Linked DNA regions of Homo sapiens. The protein of the gene in region 1 purifies or fractionates together with the protein of each later gene. This does not show direct contact. Each region holds a gene or a part of one and is shown on either strand. Other genes may lie near its edges. The genes, in order: CIMAP3 and DUSP28.

Region 1 (4,076 bases):
TATTTCCTATAAATTTCTTCACAATGTTAATGTATATAACTACTACTAATTATTTTTGTAGAGTCCAACAGGACATATTTGAATGTCATGTGGGACATGGGACAACTCACTGTATGCCTGGGCAATGCAGTGTAGGATGTCTAGCCTCCCTAGCCTGTTGACCAGGAACAACACCCCAACAATTTTTAACAAGCAAAAATTCTTCCACAAATTTCCAAAACACCCTCTGGGAGTCACTGTCACCTTTTTTGGAAAGTCTACCTTAGATCTATAAAAATCATCCCTGAAGGCTGTCCTAACGCGGAGTATGTGTGGATTCCAGGGTCATCACCTGTAAAGGGTCAAAGTATGGACCAGTCACACTGGGTGTTCTGTTAACCTCTAACACCTGGACAACTCCTAAAGCCATCCTAAAAATCGAGTGAAAACAAGCTAGTGTTAATATCCATGACAAAGGCAAAAAAGACAAAACACACTCTGATCTTTTTTTCTTCGGTTATTATTATCTTCAGTGATAATAACCTGTCGTATGTCACCCACCAAGTACCACGTTCTGAACTGTTTTAATCCCGTCATCTTGATCCTCTCAACAATCCTATATAGAGGAATTTTTATTCCCAATTTAGAGATGAGAAAACTGGGGCTTAGAAATTTGACTGCCCCAACTTCTAAAAAAAAAACTATTAGAGTCTTCTCTGATTCCGTGGCATTCTACCCGGTCCACGCAAGGCCTCCAGTTCTTTTAAAACCTCGCGCCCCCTCCCCACGGCCCCCCGGGATAGAATGGGCAACCTGATTGGAGGGGCTTGAGGAAAAGGAAAAATGGTCTAAGGGCCTAATATGGAACTAGCTGTCAGCTCAACTCCGCCCCCTACTCCTCTGCTGGGGCGTTGCCCAGGGAGTCCACCCCGGTACGCTGCAGCGGCTGTCTTTCTACTTTCACCTTACTTGCTGGTGGCCCAGACTTCGGGACATTCTGAACCTCACTGTCCTTCCCTCTACAACAGCGCATTCCTCTTGGCCCAGCTTCCAAAGCTATTTGCCGCCCCGTCAACCCTGCAGCCCCTACAGCCGCGAATCCAGGAAACCCTCTACCCGCAGCCCAGCTACTGAGTTTACAATCCCCTGGGCTTTGGGCTCCAAGGTGCGGGTTCCTGCCCCAGTAGTGGCTCGGTGGACGCCCCAACTTGCCGCGCAGGCGCGCTCGGGCCCTCTCCCCCTCCCCGCGCTCCGCAGCTGGGAATCACGGGACTAGCCTTCGTTTCCTTGGCAACGCAGTACACAAGTGCTAGCCCTAGCAGCTCGCGATGTGCTTCAGCAGAGCAGGTGAGGAGGGCTGCCGAGAAGCCTAGAGTAGAGGGCAGGTAGGGGGAAGGGTGGGGAAGCTGGGAAAGACGAAGTGGGAGGAAGTGCAGTTCGCCCCCCTCCAGGAGTTTGGCGTGGTTTTGTAAGCGCACGGTTGGGCCCTGTCCTCTGCTCAGTCTCCCCGACCTTCCCCTCCCGGAACGCGCTCACGTAGACCCAGGTGCCGTCCCTCACGTGGAGCCTCTCCTCTTTATTTTAGACGCTGCGGATAACTACCCTTTTGGAACATGTCAACAGAGGAAACTTTTTCCTCACTTCCATCCCCCGAATTTGATTGGGAACAAGTTTGTCCCTCTTAGGGGATCACCCCACAGAGGGCCTGGGTGTTATTTTTCAGATGTGAGTATTCACCTCCCCTTAGATGCTCCTCAGTTCCCCGGCTATTGAGGGATAGCCAAGTTTCCAAGTTTCGTAAAAGAAAAAATTCTGTGGGACTTGAGATCTCCAGAGTCCCAGCATAAGAAAGCGCTCTGTTCTTCTGCAAGCAGCTGTTTCAGCCAATGCCAGAGATTAAAGGATTATTGCTCCCCGCCTTGCACCTCCATTAAACGCAAGCCCTAGCTTCATAAAATCCCTACTCCTTCCTCACTTCCAAAGGCCTCTGAGCCAGTGCCAGTTACCCTCCCATTCCTCCAAACCTCAGGCTGACAGTTGCATTAGAGTAAGTTCAGCTCTGTGGGGCTCCGAAGACTGATGCATTTGAATATATGGCAATGTCCTATAGTCTACGTATCCAGCCACACCCCTCTACAAAGTTACCTGTATTACTTGTGTAATTCTATGGTCTTGACCTCAAAGGAGTCAAGACAATAAAGAATAATCCCTTGCAGAGAAGGTTCAGATGGGAACACACTAAGCTCACTCCATTTCGATGGCCCTGATGTTCTCTGACTATGCGTTGTTTTTTCTTTCTTTTTTTTTTTTTTTGGTGTTTTTGTTTGTTTTTTAATATACCACCCAAAGGGATATGGCTTGGCATACGACTTATCTAAGATCCCAACCAGTATAAAAGGATATACTTTGGGAGCCAGAACAGCTGTGAGGTTTAAGCCAATACAGAAGGTAATGTGCTGGGATTTTAGTGTTATCCACGTTGTTGCATGCATTTGCACAGGAGTGCAAAGGGCAGAGAGCAAGAGGGGGGTGATCTAAAAGAATATGCCCTGAAATTAAAGAAAAGTAGGCATTTAAGCAAAAGCTATTAAGAAGCCTATCTGAAAAGCTTGGGCATTAACATTGCAAATATGCGTGTGAGTGTACCGGGGAGAGTGGAAAACAATTTACTGAAGAAATGGTCCCAACACAGGGCTTTAGTGTTGAGATGCCTGAGGTTAAACATTCGAAGCTTGTGTTTATATACATTATATTGTCTTGTCAGTTAAATAACAAATTCCAACTTTTCCACCCTTTTGTGTGATTGGGTTGCAAGTCTAAAGTTCAGTAGGGGATCCTAATCTCTTATTGGACGACATTTTCCTGACACTTGAGCTTAGGGAGCAGAGATACTATCTCTAAAAATCTCTCAGTGAGGTGTTAAGCATAGTGGCCGTGATAAGTTGCCTTGGTTCTCTACCCATCCTAGATTTATTTCTACAACCTATATATTACGTATCACTAGGTAGCTGAACCACACCCGTATCTCGGTTTTCTACCTACCGAAGACTTATTTCTGTAGCTTGAGGTGGCTGAACCATAGCTGATTTATGAACAGAAAGAGGATGATTCTGTTTTTTCTACCTGGAAGGCTTTATGTGTATATATATACATATCACTCTGTAACATAATGATCTTTTTCTTGGAAACAGGAAATGACACCTCATGCAGGCAGGTACCAGAAAGTAAGTCCTCAGCAGGAAAAACACAAACAAAATTTTGCTCCATTTAATGTCTTGGTGCCTCGATTTAAGAACTACCCAAAGGACACTTACTATCCCAGGTATGTCTCCTCCCTTTTGGTGCACTTCAACAAAAAAAGCAATAGGAGGAAAAGAAGTACGTAATAAAAGAAGCACATAAAGAAGGGATGACATCCAAACCATCGCAGTTAAATAAGGAACCATTCAGAGATTTAATCAATTGTCTCACAGATTTCTGGCATTGTAGAATGTAGAATCATAGTTACTCATTCAATGAATTTTTATTAACATGCCAGGTAGTTTTGTAGGTTCGATAGATTTTTGCACTAAATCCATCACACAAGGCTCCTGATTTCTTGGGGCTTACATTCTAGAGTCCAGACAGAGCACAGGCAAATACACAAGAAAATATCAATAGTGATAGAGTGACCATATAATTTGTTAGTCAAACGATGACACTTCTGAGAGTAAAAGGGGGCCTATTAATAATTCTACCAAGACAGTACCCATAAGGTAGGGACTGTCATGGACAAACCAGGAAGTAGGTTGTCCAGGCTACAAAGAAGGTAAAACAGGATGACAATGTGATAGGGAGTGATGGCCTGGAGTCTACTTTAGAAAGGGTTGAAGAAATGACAGTTAACCTGAGATCTAAATGACAAGACTGAGCCAGCCCTGTGAAGATCTGGGGACCGAGCATTCCCAGCAGAAGGAACAGCAAGTGCAAAGGCTATAAATTGGGAAGGAATTTGACGTGAACAAAAAGGCATGCTGCCATGGCTAGAGTGTAGTGAGCAAGTAGGAAATGAGACAGAAATGGAGGGCATGCTGGAGCACATAGGCCTTGCAGGCCAA
Region 2 (4,824 bases), on another chromosome or scaffold:
GCTGGGCCTTCCTGCAAAGAGGGGAGAGGCTCTTGGAGGTGCAGGGCTTGCGTTTTCTCAACCCAGACTGCCTCTGAGAACAGGGCAGGGGGTGTGAAGAGCTGATGCCCTGGCCCTCCCCACTGGCTAGCTTTCCGGGGACTAAGGACTAAGGCTGGGCCAGGATTCTGGGGTTCTAGGGGCTCTGCCTCCACACGCCAGTGCCTGTCTGTTGAGTTCACTTCTCTCTAAAATCTCATTTTACACCACGACCCAGTACAAACCACTCAGAAAAATGTTTCATTAAAAGTTCGGCATACTACATGCATGCACTCTAATATTTTCATGTAGTCTATTATTTCTCTAAAAACTAAAATGCTGATCATGACCCACAGAATTGATTTCACAACCCACATTAGTTGTGAATTACAACTTGCTAAGGAGTCAGAACCAACATGTAGAAACCCTCTGTTCTTAGCAAGCACATTCTGGTTACACTGTGGGGGACTAGCACCAAGTCCAGGAGACAGAGGCTGGCCCAGACTAAGTGTGGCAATGAGATGCAGAGACACTTAGGATGAATTGGTTCCCAATCCATTACCTCAATGGAGTGGGAGCATGATGGTTCAAGTAGCAGGCTTTGGAGCAGAAAACCCACCTCAACCATCCTCCAACCGTAAAGGGTGATGATGATTCATGAAACAGTCCAGGAGGAGGAGGGACTTCAGGTTTTGTTTGATTCATTTCAGTGGCCCAACAGTGGCATCAAGGACCTTGGCTCTCCCATCTCCTCTGCTTTCACCCAAGGCTGGCTTCCCCTTATGGCCATGAGAGAACAGAGGAGCCTTCCAAAGTGCTCTCTCCTTCATGGGTTATTAGACACCAAGCTCATTCCCAGAGCAGTCACGGGAGTGTGGCCTTCACTTTTGGCCAGAGACAGAGCCAACTCCTAGAAAGCGGAGGGAGACAGTGTCCCAACCTAATCAATGGCTCCCATGAACGCCAGGGAAAAAAAGGGAATTCCACTCCTCCATCCTAGGAAAGTTGGAGTCCTTCCTTAGGGTGGAGGAAGTGGGAAACAGATGCTGATAAGACCTCCACGGAGGTGATGTCTGGAGCTGCAACCAGGGAAGACCTGGCTGCAGACATATTTGAGTCTTTAGCTCAAGAGTGAACCCCAGGCTGCAATAAAGATCTGACAGTTACCAATGCTAGAAGGCTGATGGACAAAGCAATGACGATAACCCAGAGAGAGACTGTATGCAACTGAAACTTCAATTGCTAAATGTCTGTAGGGCTGTTGAGACAGTTGCTTTTCAGTGTATCCATTGCCTGAAAATTACCAGATGTCAGAAAAATTGAAGGAGTCTTAAATGGCAATTTCATGGACATTAAGTGATATTAAATTTTTTAAAGTTACAATGCTGACCCCAATAAATTACTTAGAAACAGCAAAAGGAATAGTGTGGTCTATGAAGAAGTGATGAAAATAGAAATTAGTTTTATTTTATGAGCCATGTGTTATAATACATAGAAAAAAATGCACCAATTACAAAGCGGGCCACAAAAAGGAATAAACGTAAAGCCGACAACGCAGTCACTAGGGAAAGGGTGAAGACACGGGAACCACGCAGCCCGCCGTCCACGTGCACCGGGTAGCCACGGGGCCCTAGCCGAACGACGCGGACGCGAAGTGGGCGGGCCCGGCCAAGCCACGCCTCCGCGCCAGACGCCGCAGTAGAGCGGGCAGGGCGCTGCGCCCAAGAGCCACAGACGCAAGCCCAGTGCCACAGGCCGCGGGGGCGGGGAGGACGGCGCCCGGGGACAGAGAACATGGGACGCAGAGCGGTCCAAGGCCCCGGCGCCCTGGTGAGGCCCAAACCTCCCGCCATGCCCCGGCCCCAACGAGACCCAAGCCCCCTGTCCCGGCCCAGCGCCCGCGGGGGACCCAAGCCCCAGCCTGGTCCACCTCGGAGGCCTCTAGGACCCGGGGGCGCCCGGCGGCCCGCCCGGCTCCCACAAATAGACTCCTGGGCGGGCGCCTGAGCCCCCAAAATAGATCCTCAGGGCCCAAAAGCAGACTCTTCGGCGGGCGCCATGGGACCGGCAGAAGCTGGGCGCCGCGGGGCCGCCTCGCCCGTACCTCCACCGTTGGTGCGCGTCGCGCCCTCACTCTTCCTCGGGAGCGCGCGAGCCGCGGGCGCGGAGGAGCAGCTGGCGCGCGCGGGAGTCACGCTGTGCGTCAACGTCTCCCGCCAGCAGCCCGGCCCGCGCGCGCCCGGCGTGGCAGAGCTGCGCGTGCCCGTGTTCGACGACCCGGCTGAGGACCTGCTGGCGCACCTGGAGCCCACGTGCGCCGCCATGGAGGCCGCGGTGCGCGCCGGCGGCGCCTGCCTAGTCTACTGCAAGAACGGCCGCAGCCGCTCGGCCGCCGTCTGCACCGCGTACCTCATGCGGCACCGCGGCCTCAGCCTGGCGAAGGCCTTCCAGGTGGGCGGGCCTTTAGGGGGGCGGTGTTTCGAGAGGGGCGTGTCTTCCGGGGACGAGTTTTCCGGGCGGGGCCGGCTTCGGGATTGGGACAGGCACTTCCGGGAGGGGCGGGTCTCTCTCGTGAGGGCGGGCTTAGGGAAGCAGAGAGGCACTTCCGGGTTGGGCGGGGCCCACTCTTACAGCTGGGCCCGCCTTGGCCCCTGCTGGCCATTAGCGCGACTTGGGGTTATTCAGTACACTTCTTGTTTGCAGATGGTGAAGAGCGCTCGCCCGGTAGCAGAACCGAACCCGGGCTTCTGGTCTCAGCTCCAGAAGTATGAGGAGGCCCTCCAGGCCCAGTCCTGCCTGCAGGGAGAGCCCCCAGCCTTAGGGTTGGGCCCTGAGGCTTGAAGCTTGAAGGCCTGCTGCCTGGAGGAAGGATGTCCCTGCACTGATACAGAAGGCTGGTCTTTACCCTTCTTCCTCACTGTCATATCGAGTTTTCCTTTGTGTGTGTGTGTGTGAAACATAGTGCTTTTAATTTTATATTTCCGGCTGAGGTGATGCACAAATTATCTTACAGACACAAAAAGAAATACATTTGGTAAAACATCGAAGACAAATTAAGAAAAAGCAAATAGGGATCCTCCATTATTTACACTCCAGAATCTTGAGTGTTTGGGGGTGCCGGCGCATTCTACCAGTCTCAGGGAAGGACATGAGTACAGACTACAGTAATCAGAATCTGAGTCATAGGTGAAATCAGGAAAAGCAACTCTTCTTGTGTTTATTTTTAGTAGTGTCATAAGAACGGACTAGTTCTTCCTGCGTGACCACGGATGCTTCTGTTTGAGAAAATGCATACCCACGTGGGACATTTAGATCAAGAAAGCTGTTGATGAAGACATTGTTGAAGGGCAACTTGGGTGATTGGGGAATTATTCTCTTCATCAGCCCCTCTGCAATACAGCTGGAGCTGTCCCATAGGAGTTCGGACAATTACGGACATCCTTTTTCTTTCTCTCTTTCTTTTTTTTTGTTTGTTTGTTTGAGACAGAGTCTCTGTTGCCCAGGCTGGAGTGCAGTGGCGCAATCCCGGCTCACTGCAACCTCCGCCTCCCTGGTTCAAGTGATTCTCCTGCCTCAGCCTCCTGAGTAGCTGGGACTACAGGTGTGTGACACCAGACCCGGCTAATTTTTTGTATTTTTAGTAGAGATGGGGGGTTTCACCATGTTAGCCAGGATGGTCTCAAACTCCTGACCTCGTGATCCACCCACCTCAGCCTCCCAAAGTGCTGGGATTACAGGCGTGAGCCACCGTGCCCAGCCTCCTTTTTCTATTACTAGAGAACTCCAGGACATTAAGAATTTCAAAAGTGATTTTTTCACCCATGGCTTCTACGGTGACAGAGTATGGTGTTCCTGTAGGGAAACAAAGCCAAGTTTTTTTGCTCCTTTCACTAAAGCTGCTTCATCCGGGGAGGAAGCCTGGTAGATTATAATATTTCCAGGGATAACAGTGTGGCACACAGATAACAGGGTAAGAAATTGGTCTATATAGTTTTCTGTGGGATGGCCATTCTCAATGTTCTCCAATAAACTGGGGTAATTAAAATATCAGGGCTCGGATGGAAGGTGTTGCACCATAAATGACACCTGCAGTGGTACTTGTTAAATGTCTTAACATTGCAAGTGAGGGTTCCCATTTTATCAGAAAATAGAAATTTTACCTGCCCAAGTTCTTCACTGAGATTGAATGTGCTGGCCATGGTGTGGACACTATTTACTTTATAATGCACATCTTGATCCCAGTTTATAAACTGGGCCTGAATATATTTCACAATTTCCATAGTGACCAGCAGACTAATGGGGATGAGGTACTGTTATAAGATGATGAACACCAGTATGTCAAACACAATGCTGTGAGCTGGAATCCTCTTTCAGGTACCAAATGTCACCATACTTTTTATTCCATAGCACGGCTCCCACGCAGCTCACTACAGACATGACCAGAGCAGCAGGAACCAAAGGGAGACCCGCCCATTGTCACTTTCTTAATCTCTGATCTCTTGAGGTGATTTGACAGAATTCTGCAGGAATTTGGTTTCAAAGCCAGTGTAAACAACTATGCCAGTGATCCACTGAGCATTTCTTTTTTTTTTTTCTTGAGACGGAGTCTCACTCTGGTGCCCAGGCTGGAGTGGGCGCCATCTTGGCTCACTGCAAGCTCCGCCTCCCGGCTTCATGCCATTCTCGTCCTTCAGCCTCCTGAGTGGCTGGGATTACAGGCGCCCGCCACCACGCCTAGCTAATTTCTTTGTATTTTTGGTAGAGACGGGGTTTCACTGTGTTAGCCAGGATGGTCTCAATCTCCTG

The links.
Region 2: the proteins of CIMAP3 (region 1) and DUSP28 purify together in Homo sapiens (affinity purification with mass spectrometry; 2 studies listed by BioGRID and IntAct, with this or other methods). This does not show direct contact.

Annotation. Positions count from the first base shown.
Region 1 is NC_000001.11:111,345,346-111,349,421, forward strand, and holds the start of CIMAP3 (ciliary microtubule-associated protein 3), read left to right. Parts: upstream 1-1,276; 5' UTR 1,277-1,307; coding exon 1,308-1,326; intron 1,327-1,564; coding exon 1,565-1,704; intron 1,705-2,328; coding exon 2,329-2,427; intron 2,428-3,170; coding exon 3,171-3,301; intron 3,302-4,076. UniProt on the Homo sapiens protein: During primary cilia disassembly, involved in cilia disassembly. Required specifically to control cilia retraction as well as the liberation and duplication of the basal body/centrosome.
Region 2 is NC_000002.12:240,558,609-240,563,432, forward strand, and holds the start of DUSP28 (dual specificity phosphatase 28), read left to right. Parts: upstream 1-1,748; 5' UTR 1,749-2,076; coding exon 2,077-2,469; intron 2,470-2,721; coding exon 2,722-2,859; 3' UTR 2,860-4,824. Other genes in the region: ANKMY1 (ankyrin repeat and MYND domain-containing protein 1), read right to left, coding at 2,123-2,342. UniProt on the Homo sapiens protein: Has phosphatase activity with the synthetic substrate 6,8-difluoro-4-methylumbelliferyl phosphate (in vitro).